Homo sapiens: one gene and its partner. The protein of the gene in region 1 interacts with the protein of each later gene in a biochemical or structural test. Each region holds a gene or a part of one and is shown in the gene's direction. Other genes may lie near its edges.

Region 1 (7,913 bases):
TTTCCTAGGTTCCTCTTTTCTCTTCCTGAAAAAACACACAGGCTCTTTTTACATTGAATTTTAATACTAATCCCTCCTGGTAATTAGACATGAAATAACAAAAATGGTAAACTATATCAAATTACAATGGTTAAGAAATCTTACTGAATTCTATCAGGCATGTTTCCTGGTCTATAATTTTTGACTTCTTGAGGGAAATGCTAACTAGGAGTCCCAAACATTTATTCTTTAAGGTAAATTTCTCCAGAAGTCTTATTCTAAGGCTAGCATATCCAATCAGAGAAAGAAAATTAATATGATCTAGGTTAATTAGGTGCTATCCTAGGCTAAATAATAGCCACCTAAAGATAACATATCCTAATCTCAGGAACTTGTAAAGTTACTTTATAAGGAAAAAGGGACTTTGCAGAAGTGATTAAATTTAAGTATCCTGCATAGGGATATTATCCTGGATTATCTGGGTGAGCCCTGAATACAATCAAAAGTGTCCTGGTAAGAGAGAGGCAGAGGGTGATTTGACACACACACAGATTGAAGAGGAGGAGGCAATGTGACCACCGAGGCAGAGATTAGAGTGATACAGCCACAAATCAAAGAATGTCAGCAGCCACTGGAATCTGGAAGAGACAAGGAACAGATTCTCTTTAGCACATCAGAAAAGATGGTGCATTAGTTGCAGTGGCTCATGCATGTAATCCCAGGACTTTGGGAGGCTGAGTCTGGTGGATCACTTGAACCCAGGAGTTTGATACCAGCCTGGGCAAAATGGCAAAATCTCGTCTCTACAAAAACAAAAAACAAAACCAAACAAACAAAAAGCAAACTAACTAAAAATGAACCAGGCGTGGTGGTGTGCACCTGTAGTCCCAGCTACACTGGAGGCTAAGGAGAGAAGATCACCTGAGCTTGGGTGGTCAAGGCTGCAGTGAGCCATGATTGCACCACTCCACTCCAGCTTGGGTGACACAGCGAGATCCTGTCTCAAAAGAAGAAAAGAAAATATTGTGATCTGGTGAACACCTTGATTTTGAACCAATAATACTGATTTCAGACTTCTGACATTCAGAACTGTGAGACGATAAATTTCTGTTGTTTTAGCCCATGACATCTGTAGTGATTTGTTAGCACAGCCATAGGAAACTAACAGAAGGGCCCACTTGTCTTAAATTCCTATCGTTTAACCTGTGGGGTTGGTAACATCCATTTTAAGGGGTTCTTGCCCCGTTTCTTTACCTTTTCTGGTCATTAATTGTCAAGCTGAGCAGAAACTATTTTTATATTACTGGAGAGTTATGCTTGAGAAATTGGGATTTGAGAAAGGCACGGAAAGAAAGATGATATACTTAACCACTATTCCTTCATCTAATAAACGTTGTGTAAATTCCTACTATGTGTCAAGCTATGTGCTAAGTCCTAGAATAAAAATGGAGTAAGACAGGATTTTTGTCCTTAAGAAGTTCAGTTGAGTAGGAGAATTAGACACACACATACGTATAATTAAATTAATTTGTGGAAAATGCAGTAATGATTATGTAGAAAGAGTATTGTATTTCCCCAGTGCATTTCATATTTTGAAAAACACTGTCTACAAAAAAGTTTCTGTGTTTAAGTAATATATAATAGGTTAAGAACAGTTCTAACTGCCAATAGGTTTTATAATTAACATAGGAAGATCAGTGTTATACTACTAGCTTACCATTATTTCAGCCAAAAATCAAAGGTATCTGTCATTTGAGTTTTTATTGTAAAGTCTGTTCCTGGAGAAAGTGTGAATTTTCTTATAATATTTAAAATACTGATGTAGCTACAGAACTCTCTCCCCATTACTTTCAAGAATGGCCTTTCCTAGTTTGGGAAATACAGCAACTATGTCATTAAACAATCTGGTTGGCCAGGCACGGTGGCTCACGCCTGTAATCCCAGCAGTTAGGGAGGCCGAGGCTGGTGGATCACCTGAGGTCAGGAGTTCAAAAGCAGCCTGGCCAATGTGGTGAAACCCCGTCTCTACTAAAAATACACAAATTAGCTGGGCGGGTTGGCACATGCCTGTGATCCCAGCTACTCTACTTGGGAGGCTGAGGTGAGAGAATTGCTTGAACCCAGGAGGTGGAGGTTACAGTCAGCCGAGATTACGACATTGCACTCCAGCCTGGGCAACAAGAGCAAAACTCCATCTAAAATAATAATAATAATAATAATAATAATAATAATAATAATAATAAAACAATCTGGCTTAGAGAAAATTGTATTGCAAACAATCTCATTAATGAGAGTTCCTGCGTAACAGGACACTAGCTCTGTCCCTTGGGGATGGCTTGGAGTACTGTTTCCTGGTAAAGCAACATAAACAGATCTCAGTCCCCTCTTACAGAGTTATGAAATAATAGCCATAAGTAATAACCAACATTTATATAAGCATTCCATCATTTTACAAAATAATTTTACAAAAGTAACTGATTATAGGTTGTTTTAATTGGAAGCAAACCCAGTTTCATTACCTCAAGCAAATTTCTTCATCTCTTTTAGCTTCCGTTTCTCATCTCTTTTTTTTTTTTGAGATAGAGTCTTGCTCTGTCGCACAGGCTGGGTTGGGTGCAGTGGTGCGATCTTGGCTCACCGCAACCTCTGCCTCCCAGGTTCAAGCAATTCTTCTGCCTCAGCCTCCTGAATAGCTGGGACTACAGGCGCCTGCCACCACGCCCGGCTAATTTTTGTATTTTTAGTAGAGACGGGGTTTCACCATGTTGGCCAGGATGGCCTCCATCTCCTGACTCCGTGATCCACCCGCCTCGGCCTCCCAAAGTGTTGGGATTACAGGCGTGAGCCACCGCGCCCGGCAGTCCGTTTCTCATCTTTAAAGTGAGAGTGCTAACACGCACATGGAGGGCTACTATGAGAATGGAGTGAGATTTTGTATATGAAGTAGCAAAGACAGAGCCTGGGACTTAGTAGGTACATTATTAAGAGTTGGAGCCATTTTTTAAACCTTTTGTCTTTTTGTTATTTTTGCTGTTCTGAAAGTCTCTAAGCTTTTAAAAATGGTCTCTTATTTTACTATTCTTGAATTGTTTCACGCTTCTCAACTCATGACAAGAACCTATTCTGCCAATGAACCTCCTGCCCCCATCTATTGAAATTAAAGCTTAGGAGCACCAGTGCATCCCAGAATTTGACTTCCTTCCAGTGGAGAGACCCCTTGGGTTTTTCGTGTGCTCTTTCCCTGATCCTTTAGGTGTCACATGGTCAGAAAGAACATAGTATTATTTATAAACAATATGCTCTCTAACTTCAGAAAGATTTAGGACAGCTTTCTGGATTTGGTCATGCATGAAACAGGAAAAACAGGCTATTAGAAAATTGTGTGAAGTCTAACAGGGACTTGATATGAATTCATTTTGATTTTTAAAACTGAGGACTGCAATCATTAATCAGTTCATTAAATTAATTGGAATAAGTATATTGCATGTAGTGAGAGTAGTAGTATTTTTTGAAATTTTAGTTTTAATTATATCCTATGGCCTGTGTTGTAAGATTTTTTATTTTAAGAGTTTAAAAGCCATTCGATTAAGCAACTAGTAGTAAACTTTTCTGTCTCTCATTAGTTGTTAAATCTAGAAAAGTTATTGGTTTAACAAACCTTTATTGGATATCTATTTTGCATCAGATTTTTTTCTACATGAATGACATTTTTTTCTCTCTCTTTTCTAATACTGATTTGTTGCAGTGTCGAATAGGTACCTGGGTCAACTCCACACACTTCTCACTCTTCACTGGACCTCTGGTACAAGATTGAGAGGATTCCTATTACTTACAAACAGACTAGGTATTAAAACAAAAAGATTCCCGAATAGAGTGAACCTAACCTAGAGCCCCTAAGAATTACATCAGCTTTAACCATTAATTCCCTGGGTTCTTCTTATTCAGTAATGTCTTAAAACCTTTTTATCAGTATGGGATGGGCGGGCAAGGGGATAAAGAAACTGGCGGCTGGTGGGAAGCCTTAGGTAAGGCTGTCAGGGGGGCTTTAGTTTGGGAGTGGGATAATTTGCTGAGGAAGGGTGGGAGAAACGTGAACTAGCACACAAAAGGCTGTTTCCGGCTCAAATTTCGTTACCAAGGCTCTTTGAGATGAACTTTTTTGGGGGAAAACAATCAGTCTAAAAGAGCTGTGTCTTCTTGTGTGTGTGTGTGTGTGTGTGTGTGTGTGTGTGTGTGTACAAGGGGGCGGCGAGGGTCCCCACTTTTAGTATGAGTAGCATTGTTCACATGTTTGCCAGTATTTTGGAGCCTGGCAGGCCTGGGTAGAGGCTGCGGGGGACGCCTCCAAGTTCCCACCCGGGACATCCTGAACAGCAGCAGCCACAACAACAGGCTCGCCCCTAGACAAAGGGGCCGGCGCGGCGGAGCAGACTGGTGCAGCCTGGGCCGCGCGCTCAGAGCGCTGGGCGTCTGGGCAGCTGAGTGGGCAGAGCTGACCCGGTGCGGGTGGGAGTCAGGGCGCCCGGAAAACCCGGCTCTGGGTAGCAGACCCCGCCCGGGCTGGCTCGGCGCCGGGCCTTCGGGCTTCCACTCAGTCTTTGACCCTCGGTCCTCGCTCAGCGGCCCGGCAGGCCGCACAACTGTAACCGCTGCCCCGGCCGCCGCCCGCTCCTTCTCGGTCCGGCGGGCACAGAGCGCAGCGCGGCGGGGCCGGCGGCATGGCTGTGTCCTGGAGGAGCTGGCTCGCCAACGAAGGGGTTAAACACCTCTGCCTGGTAGGATGGCGGGCTAGGCTCTCCTTGCGTTCTCTCTGTCCTGCAGTGATTTTGATTCATTCTCTGAGCGTGCACGGGTGGGAAGCTGGAAGTGGAAGTTTTGTCTTAATTCGAACATTCTCAACTTACAAAACTTTATGCTGGAGATAACAATGAACACTCCCCCTCCCACCCCCTCGCCTGTCCCCCAAATGCATGAGAATTTTTCTGCACATTGATGGGAGAGATGTGGAGGAAGAGGGAAGAGGTCATTTTCCGTGAATACAGCTTTTCTTTTTACCCTTTAAACATTTTTGCTCCCTTTGTTCTTTTCCCAGATTACTTCTGTTTGCTTGGGGTATGGTGATGTCATTAATTTCTTAATCTCATTTTGTACGGCAGGGGATAGCTGTAAATCATTTAGGAAACCTATTTGCAACCCAAATGCTTAGTCTCAGGTGAAAGGGCTGGGTAAAGTCAGATTTGTTTTCCTCTGAGTGGTTTTCAGCTTGCTGGTTAATTGAAAATGCTTTCTGCAGTTACTGATTTAGGTTCCATTGAAAGCACTGTGTCGAAGAATTTACCTGTGGTTTCTATTCATCAGGTAATAATTATTTTCAATTTTTGTTTTCTGTCTCTCATGTCTGATTGGTTTAGTTCATCTGGCTCTCCATGAATGTCCTGCTTTTCTGGAAAACCTTCTTGCTGTATAACCAAGGGCCAGAGTATCACTACCTCCACCAGATGTTGGGGGTAAGTAAGGTGAACTTGGATAATCTGGTGGAATGGGTTTAACACTGGCAGACATTGCTACAGGTTTGGTCAGTTCCATTCATTAAAGAAATGTGCACTCTTCACTTTGAAAACCTTTGTTGTTCTCTAAAGTGGTCACATTTTCCTGATTTATCATTTACACTTGTACAAGTTAAAAAGATTGACTCTCTCAAGAACCAAAGGTAATATCTGCTGAAGTGAAACGAATGAACCTGCCAGACCAGGTTATTGGTGCCTTAAAAAAATTGCTACTTATTGCCAGCTGCTAAGTACCCTGAAGGATCTGATTCACTAGGAGGATCAACCAATAACAAGCTTTTAGTATATACTTATCAGTGCTTTTAGCCTGCTCATGAGCTTATCCAGAGGATTTCTGCACTGTTTGTTTTTACTGACAACTCTCACAAAATATGGGTCTAATGGGGTTATTCATTTCTGGGCAGTTCTCAGTGCTTGCTTTGGGTTAGTGGCTGATGATATTCCAGTATTCTACTATAATATGAGAAAGATACTGGGCAAAACTTTTTTCTGATTTATTTTATGTTAATATTTTTCTTTCTTTTCTATGATGTTTCTGATTTCATTCTTCTGTTCCATCTCCTTCTTATTTGACTGCTTAACAGAAGATAGTGTCACTGAAGGCATATTACTTTGCACAAGGAGATTGCGTTTTCTTTTTCTTTCTTTCTTTCTTTCTTTTTTTTTTTTTGAGACAGAGTCTTGCTGCGATGCCCAGGCTGGAGTGCAGTGGAGTGATCTCAGCTCACTGCAACCTCTGATTGCCTGGTTCAAGCAATTCTCCTGCCTCAGCCTTCTGAGTAGCTGGGACTACAGGCACGCACCAGCACACCTGGCTAATTTTTGTATTTTTAGTAGACACAAGGTTTCACCATGTTGGTCAGGCTGGTCTAGAACTCCTGACCTCAAGTGATCCGCCTGCCTCAGCCTCCCACAGTGCTGAAATTACAGGCGTGAGCCACCATGCCCGGCTGAGATTGCATTTTCTAAGCAACAAGCAAAAAGTGTAAAACCCTGCAAAAACTTAGGGAACCTGAAAAAATAGATTTTGCATTTTGGTGAGTGGGGGGGTGCAGAAAAAAACACATTTTGCTTTTTTATTTTTTTTCATGGTTTAATGACTACTTAAAATTAAGACGAGCTCAGACAAATTCAGTGGAACCAGCTCTCCCTTCTATGTTTTACATGGAGAGATCTTATTTATCTGTAATTCTCAGTACCCAGACTAGTGATTGGCACATATTAAGCCTGCAACAAGTTGCAGTTGAATTAATTAATTAATTTTTTATACAACAAAGTAATATCATAATCTGTTGATCACACACTTTATAAAGTTTAACTTCTAGGTTTTAAGCCAATGGGTTGAAAAAAATAGTCTGTAAAGCTAAACCCATTTCATTTATTTCTTTCATCCATCCAATCCAGGAACTGTCTTGAAACCTATACATTTCAGATGGGCACCCAGAGAGTAAGACCTCACCTCGCCCCTCAAGTTGCTTACAATATAATGGAAAAACCAACAAATAAATAATTATAATTCAATAAACAAGAAAAGGTTTCTTCTAATAAACACATGAGGTCTGATAACTTTTTGGTTTTGTTTTCTAGTATTTCCCCATTAGGTGTAACTTAATGAATAGGACGTTTTTCAGTGGAAGCTTTATCTCATCTATTACATAACTTGATGAACAACTTGGAGAAAACTCTTTAGATATAGAATGGTAAAATTTGCTCTGGATCACGAGGTATTTGTATTAATATAAAAATCTAAGAACTGGAAATTTATTGCAATAACCTAGAAAGCCATAACTGAACTTTGGATTTTAGCTTTGTGAGATAGTATAAGCTAAAATAACATCTTATTTCTTAAAAAAATAATTATTTGGAAACCAACTCATTAATTTTCATGAACTTGGATACTGTATAACTGAATTTCAAATTTAATTTGGTGGTAAGTCAGATATGATTAAGATCACATATGCACAGAAACATAAACCAACAAATTTGGAAAACATTTAAACTATGTTTCACCTCTCTACTTCCATCCCACTTCACTGCTTCTGCTTGAATAACAGACAGGGTAATGAGCTTCAAGGACTGCTGACACATAGGGCTCAATAAATATTGATCAAGGGAATGAAGAAAAAAAATGATAAAAGGACCAAATGGAAGACTAGGAGCATAAAGGATAAGAAACAGATTCAAGAAAGGAGAGGTTGTTATAAATTAGTTTTTAAGAACACACAAGTATAATTATAGTGAGTTGATATTTGAGCTATCTGGTAAGTATTCTCCATTTTACCAAGAGTCACTGTGGACAGGAATGGTCTTTCTACATGCTGAGAGATAAAATATGACTTATAAACTTCTCAGTAATTATCTGTTATG
Region 2 (7,784 bases), on another chromosome or scaffold:
GATGCTGAAGCCATGCAACCTCAGATGGGTTAGTGCTCCTCCAGGCCTCAAGGATAAATGGTCCTTAGGATGTACTCAGGTAGTTTTCAATCTTGGCTGCTCTTTAGGATCATCTGGGAAACATTGAAATAAATCCCAGGCTCCACCACAGAAATGCCTCTTCAATTGGCCTGGCATGGGCCTAGGCATCTAAAGTTTTTAATTAATCCAGAAGATTCTAATACAGAGTCAGGACTGAAAACCCCTGGGATAGACACCCAGAGGTCACGGAGGACAAGTTGGAAAAGATGGTCCTCTTGGGGTGCCAGATGGGAGAACAGCTTTTCAGGGTGTGGATGCTTCTGAACAACGTGCACCCGGGACAGCTCTTTGGAGGCCCCAGTGGCCTGGCCAGACCCCCTCTTATGATACAGGCCTCGGGGGCCAAGGTAGGGGCCCCAGACAAAGCCCTGCTCAGATCCAGCCTCAGTGTGGGGAAACCTTCCATCCTGAAAATGTTTTTGTCTAAATGACCGCCGGAATCCCAGCAAATCCTTCCAATTCGGCCCCAGAACCCTCCCTGCCTCGACACACCAAGATGTCACGGAGGAGTCTGTTCCCTCCTCCTTTAAAATGCTTCCAGCTTCTGTAAATGGCTCTTCTGGAGGGAGGCGCCTGTGATCTTGTGTTTTGAAAGCCAATTCGCCAAACTTGTTTCCTGAGGGGATTGTTTAGAAAAGGGGAGAGAATCCTCACTTGGTGGTTTCTGCTCCTTGTATCATTTGGGTTTGTCATGAGCCACAGGGAGCAGGGTTTGAGCCTTTTCTTGGTGTTTCTGCTCTGCTTTGTTCTGCTGCCTGAAGGATAAATGTGTAGATTCGGAAGCAGTAATGACCAGACCTCCTGATAACAGTCACAGGGGTCATTTATTAAGCACCTGCTGCATACCAGGCTCTGTGCTTGCATTCATCCTCCCTCTTCTTAACAGGGTGGGGTTTGTATCCACTTTTGGCCCTGGGCCTCTCTGAGCTTTGTCCTAAAAGGGGCTCACACGAGGATCCCCTCACAGAGATGGAGTGAGGATTAAAGAGCTGACGGGCATGGAGGGAGCAGCCAGTGTCCAGCTCCAGAGAAGCCCTGGATAAATGGGAACTGATTGCAGCCCCTCAGCCCTGTGGGGACATCCAGGCCGCTGGCCTCAATGACTTGACTTCTTCAAGTGACACCCTCCTTACTGTGCCCTCAAAATGTTTGATGGGTGTGAGGGAGAAGTTAATATTTACAAATGCAAGTATGTGTGATATGTGCTTCCTGGTGACTGCGATAGGAGGTATGGGGTAATGATTAGCAATTTGGAGACACGTTTACGACCCATCTGCAGGGAGAAACAGCCCGCGTTCTGATTCAGCCATGTGTGTGCTTTCAGGACCCAGGAAGTGCTTCTGCCTGCTTGGGCGCCCTGTGTCTGTGTAATTAATTGATAATTAACCACTTTGGCTTTCTCCACACTTGGTGATCTTTAGTGTCTATCTAAAACTGACACCAAAGAAGACCGCAGATTCAGAAAAGTATCCCTTCCTTTCAAATTTAGCACTTGGCACAGATTAGACCCTGCTGGAATATTTGTGGAGAAAATGAAAAATATGAAGTAAATTCATAAATACCTGAAGAGAGAGCTTTGGATATGAATAAAGTCTGGGTTAAAGTTAGATCTGTTTTTGCTTATTTTTGTGAAGCATCTTCTGTGTTTATCCAAAGCAAAACTGCTTCTGTTGCCTCATTTAATCCTCGCTGCATCCCAGAAAGGAGAAATGCTGCTGTTCCATTTTACAGACAAGGAGCTGGGTGTGCCAGGCCGCCCCTCTCATGGGCTGAGCGGCCTGGTTCCAGCTCTCATGGTGATGCCACGTTGCTGCTTACTCCCTGCACTGACCTCTATAAACGCTCTCTCTGAGGTTGGCACTGTTGCCAGGGGAGGCAGGGTAGAAACAGTTAATACCAAGGATGAGATGGATCGTTAATTTTGATCCTGTGCCCAAATTGCTGGAAGTCACCCTGTGTGGAGTGGAGAAGTTTGAACTCAGGCCTGGACTTCCCTCTGGGCCCTGCCCCTACACTGTCTGACCTCACATGGGTCCTCACCTCTCCCAACCTTTGCATCCTGCTCTGTAAAATGACAATAAGGACACCGCCCTCATTAATCCTTCCACATTATTGGAAGGATAAAAAATAATGTCTCAGAAGGTTCTTAACGTGTCACACACTTATCGTTAGTGATTGTCATCTGAGTCATGTCTCCTGATTATCGATGGTCCTTTTGTAGCCAAACCCTCTGCCCCCGTGGTATCGGGCCCTGCGGCGAGGGCCACACCTCAGCACACAGTGAGCTTCACCTGCGAGTCCCACGGCTTCTCACCCAGAGACATCACCCTGAAATGGTTCAAAAATGGGAATGAGCTCTCAGACTTCCAGACCAACGTGGACCCCGTAGGAGAGAGCGTGTCCTACAGCATCCACAGCACAGCCAAGGTGGTGCTGACCCGCGAGGACGTTCACTCTCAAGTCATCTGCGAGGTGGCCCACGTCACCTTGCAGGGGGACCCTCTTCGTGGGACTGCCAACTTGTCTGAGACCATCCGAGGTAGAAGACCCTCACCCAGCCCAAGCCCACACCTGACCGCCAAGCCCACCCCCCACCACCCTCCACTCATCCAGCTCTACTCTTGCTCCAGGGCTTGAAATGCCTGGAACCTAAATTCCTAACTGCCCACCTCCCATGCCCCTAGATGTGCCAGCCACTTACTAACATTTTAATGGCAGTGGCTGGGTGACCACACCACCCACCAGGTGCCAAGGACTGTGCTAGCCGTTTCATTTATTTCACTGATAGCAAACACAGTTAATGAGTACCTACTATGAACTAAGCCTCTATGTGCTTGGTGATTTTCTTTATTTTGCTACAGTTACAACATTCCAACTGCATGCCAGGGGTGGTGCTTATAGATTTCCCTCATTCTTAGCCTAGTAGGAGCTACCAGTCCTTGAGCACCTACTGTGTGCTGGGCGTTGTGCTTAGTAATTTCATTCATATGCAAAGAGCACCCTCAATGTCTGAGCACCTGATGCCTGCCTAGCTCTGTCCTGGTGATGACCTCACCGTGGTGGGGGAGCTACGTTATGGAGCCCTCCCTGTGATCTGTCTGTGCCACAAGGTCAGAGCTTCTGCCCTGTGCTGTTTCAGTTCCACCCACCTTGGAGGTTACTCAACAGCCCGTGAGGGCAGAGAACCAGGTGAATGTCACCTGCCAGGTGAGGAAGTTCTACCCCCAGAGACTACAGCTGACCTGGTTGGAGAATGGAAACGTGTCCCGGACAGAAACGGCCTCAACCGTTACAGAGAACAAGGATGGTACCTACAACTGGATGAGCTGGCTCCTGGTGAATGTATCTGCCCACAGGGATGATGTGAAGCTCACCTGCCAGGTGGAGCATGACGGGCAGCCAGCGGTCAGCAAAAGCCATGACCTGAAGGTCTCAGCCCACCCGAAGGAGCAGGGCTCAAATACCGCCGCTGGTGAGGCCTCTATTTCAGCTGACCCAGCTTTTTTAAACTTTTAGTTTTGTGGGTTTTTTAAATGTTAAAAGTAGTAATTCATGCTTATTATAGAACAATCTAGAAGTCTATAAATATAAAGTAGAATTTTAATGTCAGCTCCATTTCCCCAAATCCCACACTCCAAGAGTCACCACTGGTAAGAGTTTGATGCACATCTTGATAGATCTTTTGACATAGATTTATATCACAGGAGGAAAGAGGGAGAGAGGGGGCCCATCTGTTCATGGTGTCCTGCCTCTTGCCTTCTTCACCTGACAGTTGTCATGCTCCCCATTCCTCACTGGCCCAGCCCCTCTTCCCTACTCTTTCTAGCCCCTGCCTCATCTCCCTGGCTGCCATTGGGAGCCTGCCCCACTGGAAGCCAGGGTGGAGTCATTCAGGGTGTTTGCAGCTTGTCTCACATACAGTCAGTGCTTCAGTGAACATCCTTGTGCATGTTCCATCCCACATGTGACTATTTCTGTGTGATTGCCCAAGGAACACTTTAGGCCAAAATGCATACTCATGTAAGGAGGAGATAATGCTGTCGCTCCCCTGAGAGAGTGTGAGGGTGTCAAGGTATCATTTTCTCAGCCCTTGCAACGTGGTGTTGGTGTACATCTCTTTTGTTTTCAAATGGTGGCACCTGATTGGCATTTCAGTGCAGCCATGGAATATTTCATCACCTGTTATCAATGTGGCTGATGCCCTGTACATAGTAGAACCCTTGAATGGATTAGAATGGAAGCCATTTCTGTCCTTCATGCACCCTTCAGGGAAGCTCTCAAAGACAGCCTTGGGGCTGTGTCAAAGTGGCCCTTTGGTTTCACCAATGCCAGGTTTTCTTAGGATGTGTAGGGCATCGGCCAATGCTGGGTTTTCATAGTACGTGTGGAGCATTGGCCAATGCCGGGTTTTCCTAGGACGTGTAGGGCATCGGCCAATGCCAGGTTTTCATGGGATGTGTAGGGCATTGGGCAATGCTAGGTTTTCATGGGATGTGTAGGGCATTGGGCAATGCCAGGTTTTCATGGGATGTGTAGGGCATTGGGAGACAGGATGTGTGGCTTTCCACGCCAGCTATGTTGCATACTTGGCTGTGTGACCTTGGACAAGTCAGTGCCTCTCTCTGGGCCTCCACTTGCTTCTGGCTGTGTTGAAGGGGATGAGCTTCATGACCCCTCAGCTCTGAGTCTCAGCTGGTAGGGGCCATGATTATCTTGCTCAGCATTGTAGCTTCAGGGCCTGACCACAGTAAGCACTCAGTAAATGCTTTTTGAGTGAAAGAGGATAAAAGAGTCAGTTGGTTGGCTGGTTGGTTGGTTGGTTGGTTGGTTGGTTGGTTGGTTGGTTGGTTACATAATCCTTAGTTAGCCAATGAGGTAGAGATGACTGTTGGCCCCAGTAACAGAAGAAGCAGCCAGGGTTTGGAGGGAGGCTTAACTGACTTGTCCAGGGTCACACAGCTACTTAGTAGCATAGATTTGAAAGCACTTTTCTGTGGCTTAGAGCCCTGCTTCTGATGAACCACTGTGTTCTAGTCTATGACCCCCTTACCTGTGCTGTGGGCAGTCAAGCCTCCATTGTATTTTCAAGAGTCCTGGTTCAGAGCCCCTATGCTAACTCCTGAGCCCAGTGTGCATGGCCCAGGTGCTGGGCACAGACCGGTCGTCAGCCCCTGAGCTGTGCAGAGCCTGCTGGCCGCACTGCCCTTCTTCCAGCTGCTGATTCAGTTTCCAGTGGATCTGGGGTGCCCTCATGACCGCTCTGTGGTTCACTCCAGATGAGAAGGAACGTTTCTGTTCCTCAGGAGTGAGATTTCTGCCTGTATCCTGCAGCAGGGGTTCCTCCGTAGCTGTCAGCTACAAATATATTCCCCCCTGGCACCTCAGCATGGTTTTTGTGCTGTTCATGGATGAGTCTCGTGGGCAAGTGTGTACAGACCCATGAGTGTGCCCATGTGGCTCGAGACATCTAAGAAGGTCCAGCCAGATGTTCTCAGTTAATGATGCCTGCTTAGTGGTGAAAAGCAGTGGTGGGTTTGGTTTTCTGTTTTTAATCTGCATACGTGAAGCCTCTATTCCATGTGGTCCCTAGAGAACACTGGATCTAATGAACGGAACATCTATATTGTGGTGGGTGTGGTGTGCACCTTGCTGGTGGCCCTACTGATGGCGGCCCTCTACCTCGTCCGAATCAGACAGAAGAAAGGTGGGTGCATTCCCCTCTTCCTCCCTAAGGGTTTGTCCCTGGACTGTCCTCGGAGGGAGACGCCATTAGGTGCTTTGGGTTAAGGACATCAGCTTCTGCCAGTAGCAAGAAGTCCAGAGGTAGTGGTGCTAGGGCTGGGGCAGTGGCCTCACCATGTTAGAGTCTGGGTGGGTCACTCTGTGGCTTCCCCCTCATGGTTACAAGATGTTCATCACTGCCCCAGGCCCCGTGTCCTCAAGGGGCCACTACTGAGCAAGGGAGCTGCCAGCCTGGGAAGAGAGGAGGCAGGGACTCTTCTTACCTGTCTCAGGGAGGACATCGTCTTTCCCAGGAGCCTCCCGGCAGACTTCTGCTTTCCTGGTACAAGTCTAGGTTACATGACCAGTCCCTGGACAGGAGGCCAGAGGGAATGGAGATAATAGCGCCACCATTTGATTGGGAGGACTTAACAAGTGATTGCATGGGAAATGTTAGGGAAGTAACCTGGCACACAAGTGCTCAATGTATGTCAGCCCTGATTATTACCCGTATTGTATGTGAGCCCAGAAATATGAGCCACCTCCCTAGAAAGCCCCCTCACAGGGCAAGGTGCATAGCCTTTGACTGCACAGCAGGAGGGCACAGGGTCAAACCCAGGACACCGCTTCCCCTTGTTTGTGTGCACGTGTTACGTGTGTGTCTGTGTGTGTGTGCTGGTTGTTGGGAGGGTTGGTTGTTGCTGTGGCAGGGCCTCTGACTTTGAAGTCAGACAAACCAGGGTTCCAGACCCTGGTTATATACTGTAAACAATCAATTTGGCCTCTACAAGCCTCAGTTTCCCCATCTGTAAAATGGGTTTAGCAACGCCTGTCTTGGAGAAGTTACAAGATCCAAATAAGCCCATGTGAAATAACGGGTCTGACACATTCTAGGATCGCCATAAATACATGTTCTCTTTCCCACTCTTGGAGAAGACAATTTTAAGCTGGTATTTCTGCAACCTTTTTTTATTACAAGAGATAGAAATACATTTCACATCTCAACCCAACACATACACACACCCTTTGTATATAAAATTAAAACTGATATTTTCTTTTTTGTCATATTCTTTTTTCTGTTTAAAATGCTGGTTGTGACCCACCGCCTCCAAAGGGACAAGTGCTGTCCCGAGCTGCCTTTCTGTGGCCTGGCACAGCTGAGCTTGGTTGGGCACATTGTACACTAATCACGCATCCCTTCAGTAGCTCCTTCACCTCTGCCTCCCAAGTTTCCCTCCCTCCTGGGCTGGCTCTGAGATACTGGCCAAGCCTGATGCTTCTGTCTGGGAGGGTTGGAGTCAGGCCCTGCTTCTCCAGAATCTGCAAGACGTCCCACCAAGACGTCTACCCAATGGGTTCCCTAAAGTTCCTGGAGAGCCCCACACAGGGAGGACTCCTCCTTGGATGGGGAAGCAGGTCCCTTCCCCACCAAGGGTGACAGCCCATCCCATGGGATGAAGCATTCATAGCAGCCGATAGTGAAATCCTGGCCATCCTTTCTGAGTCTCAGGCCCAGGCAGCACGCCAGCTCCTGGCACACGTGAGCTCATTACTGTGGGCTTAGGTGTTGCAGAGGAATGGAGTTTGCAGGGCTGCAGCTCTGGTAAAGGCCACCCAGCCCGAGTGGCAGGTCTGTGTGCAGAGCCTAGCTCTCAAACACAGGCTCCAGTGACAGGGACGGCTAGTATCCCCCAGCAGTTCCAATGTGCCAGGCACTGCTCACTGTGCTTTCCCTGTAGTAACAGTCAGTGCTCACCACAGACCTCATGGGTGACATTACTAACCCCACTTTACAGATGAGGAAACTGAGGCATGGGAAAGTTATAAAACTTGTTCAGGGCCTCACAGCCAGGAGGTGGTGGGGCCAGAATTTAAACCCAAGGACCATGTCTAGGACCACCTTGCACACTACCTCCCTCCGCCATAACTAGACCCCCCTTCTCCCTCATTAGGCCCTGGAGGGGTCTGCCCAGCCTCTCAAT

The links.
Region 2: the proteins of NOX4 (region 1) and SIRPA form a complex in vitro, tested with the Homo sapiens proteins (one study listed by BioGRID).

Annotation. Positions count from the first base shown.
Region 1 is NC_000011.10:89,488,031-89,495,943, reverse strand, and holds the start of NOX4 (NADPH oxidase 4), read left to right. Parts: upstream 1-4,568; 5' UTR 4,569-4,697; coding exon 4,698-4,754; intron 4,755-4,965; exon of another isoform or gene 4,966-4,971; coding exon of another isoform or gene 4,972-5,091; intron 5,092-5,183; exon of another isoform or gene 5,184-5,259; coding exon of another isoform or gene 5,260-5,337; intron 5,338-5,390; coding exon 5,391-5,486; intron 5,487-6,950; exon of another isoform or gene 6,951-7,095; intron 7,096-7,913. UniProt on the Homo sapiens protein: NADPH oxidase that catalyzes predominantly the reduction of oxygen to H2O2. Can also catalyze to a smaller extent, the reduction of oxygen to superoxide. May function as an oxygen sensor regulating the KCNK3/TASK-1 potassium channel and HIF1A activity.
Region 2 is NC_000020.11:1,919,093-1,926,876, forward strand, and holds part of SIRPA (tyrosine-protein phosphatase non-receptor type substrate 1 isoform 1 precursor), read left to right. Parts: intron 1-2,302; coding exon 2,303-2,620; intron 2,621-3,220; coding exon 3,221-3,553; intron 3,554-5,671; coding exon 5,672-5,785; intron 5,786-7,784. UniProt on the Homo sapiens protein: Immunoglobulin-like cell surface receptor for CD47. Acts as docking protein and induces translocation of PTPN6, PTPN11 and other binding partners from the cytosol to the plasma membrane.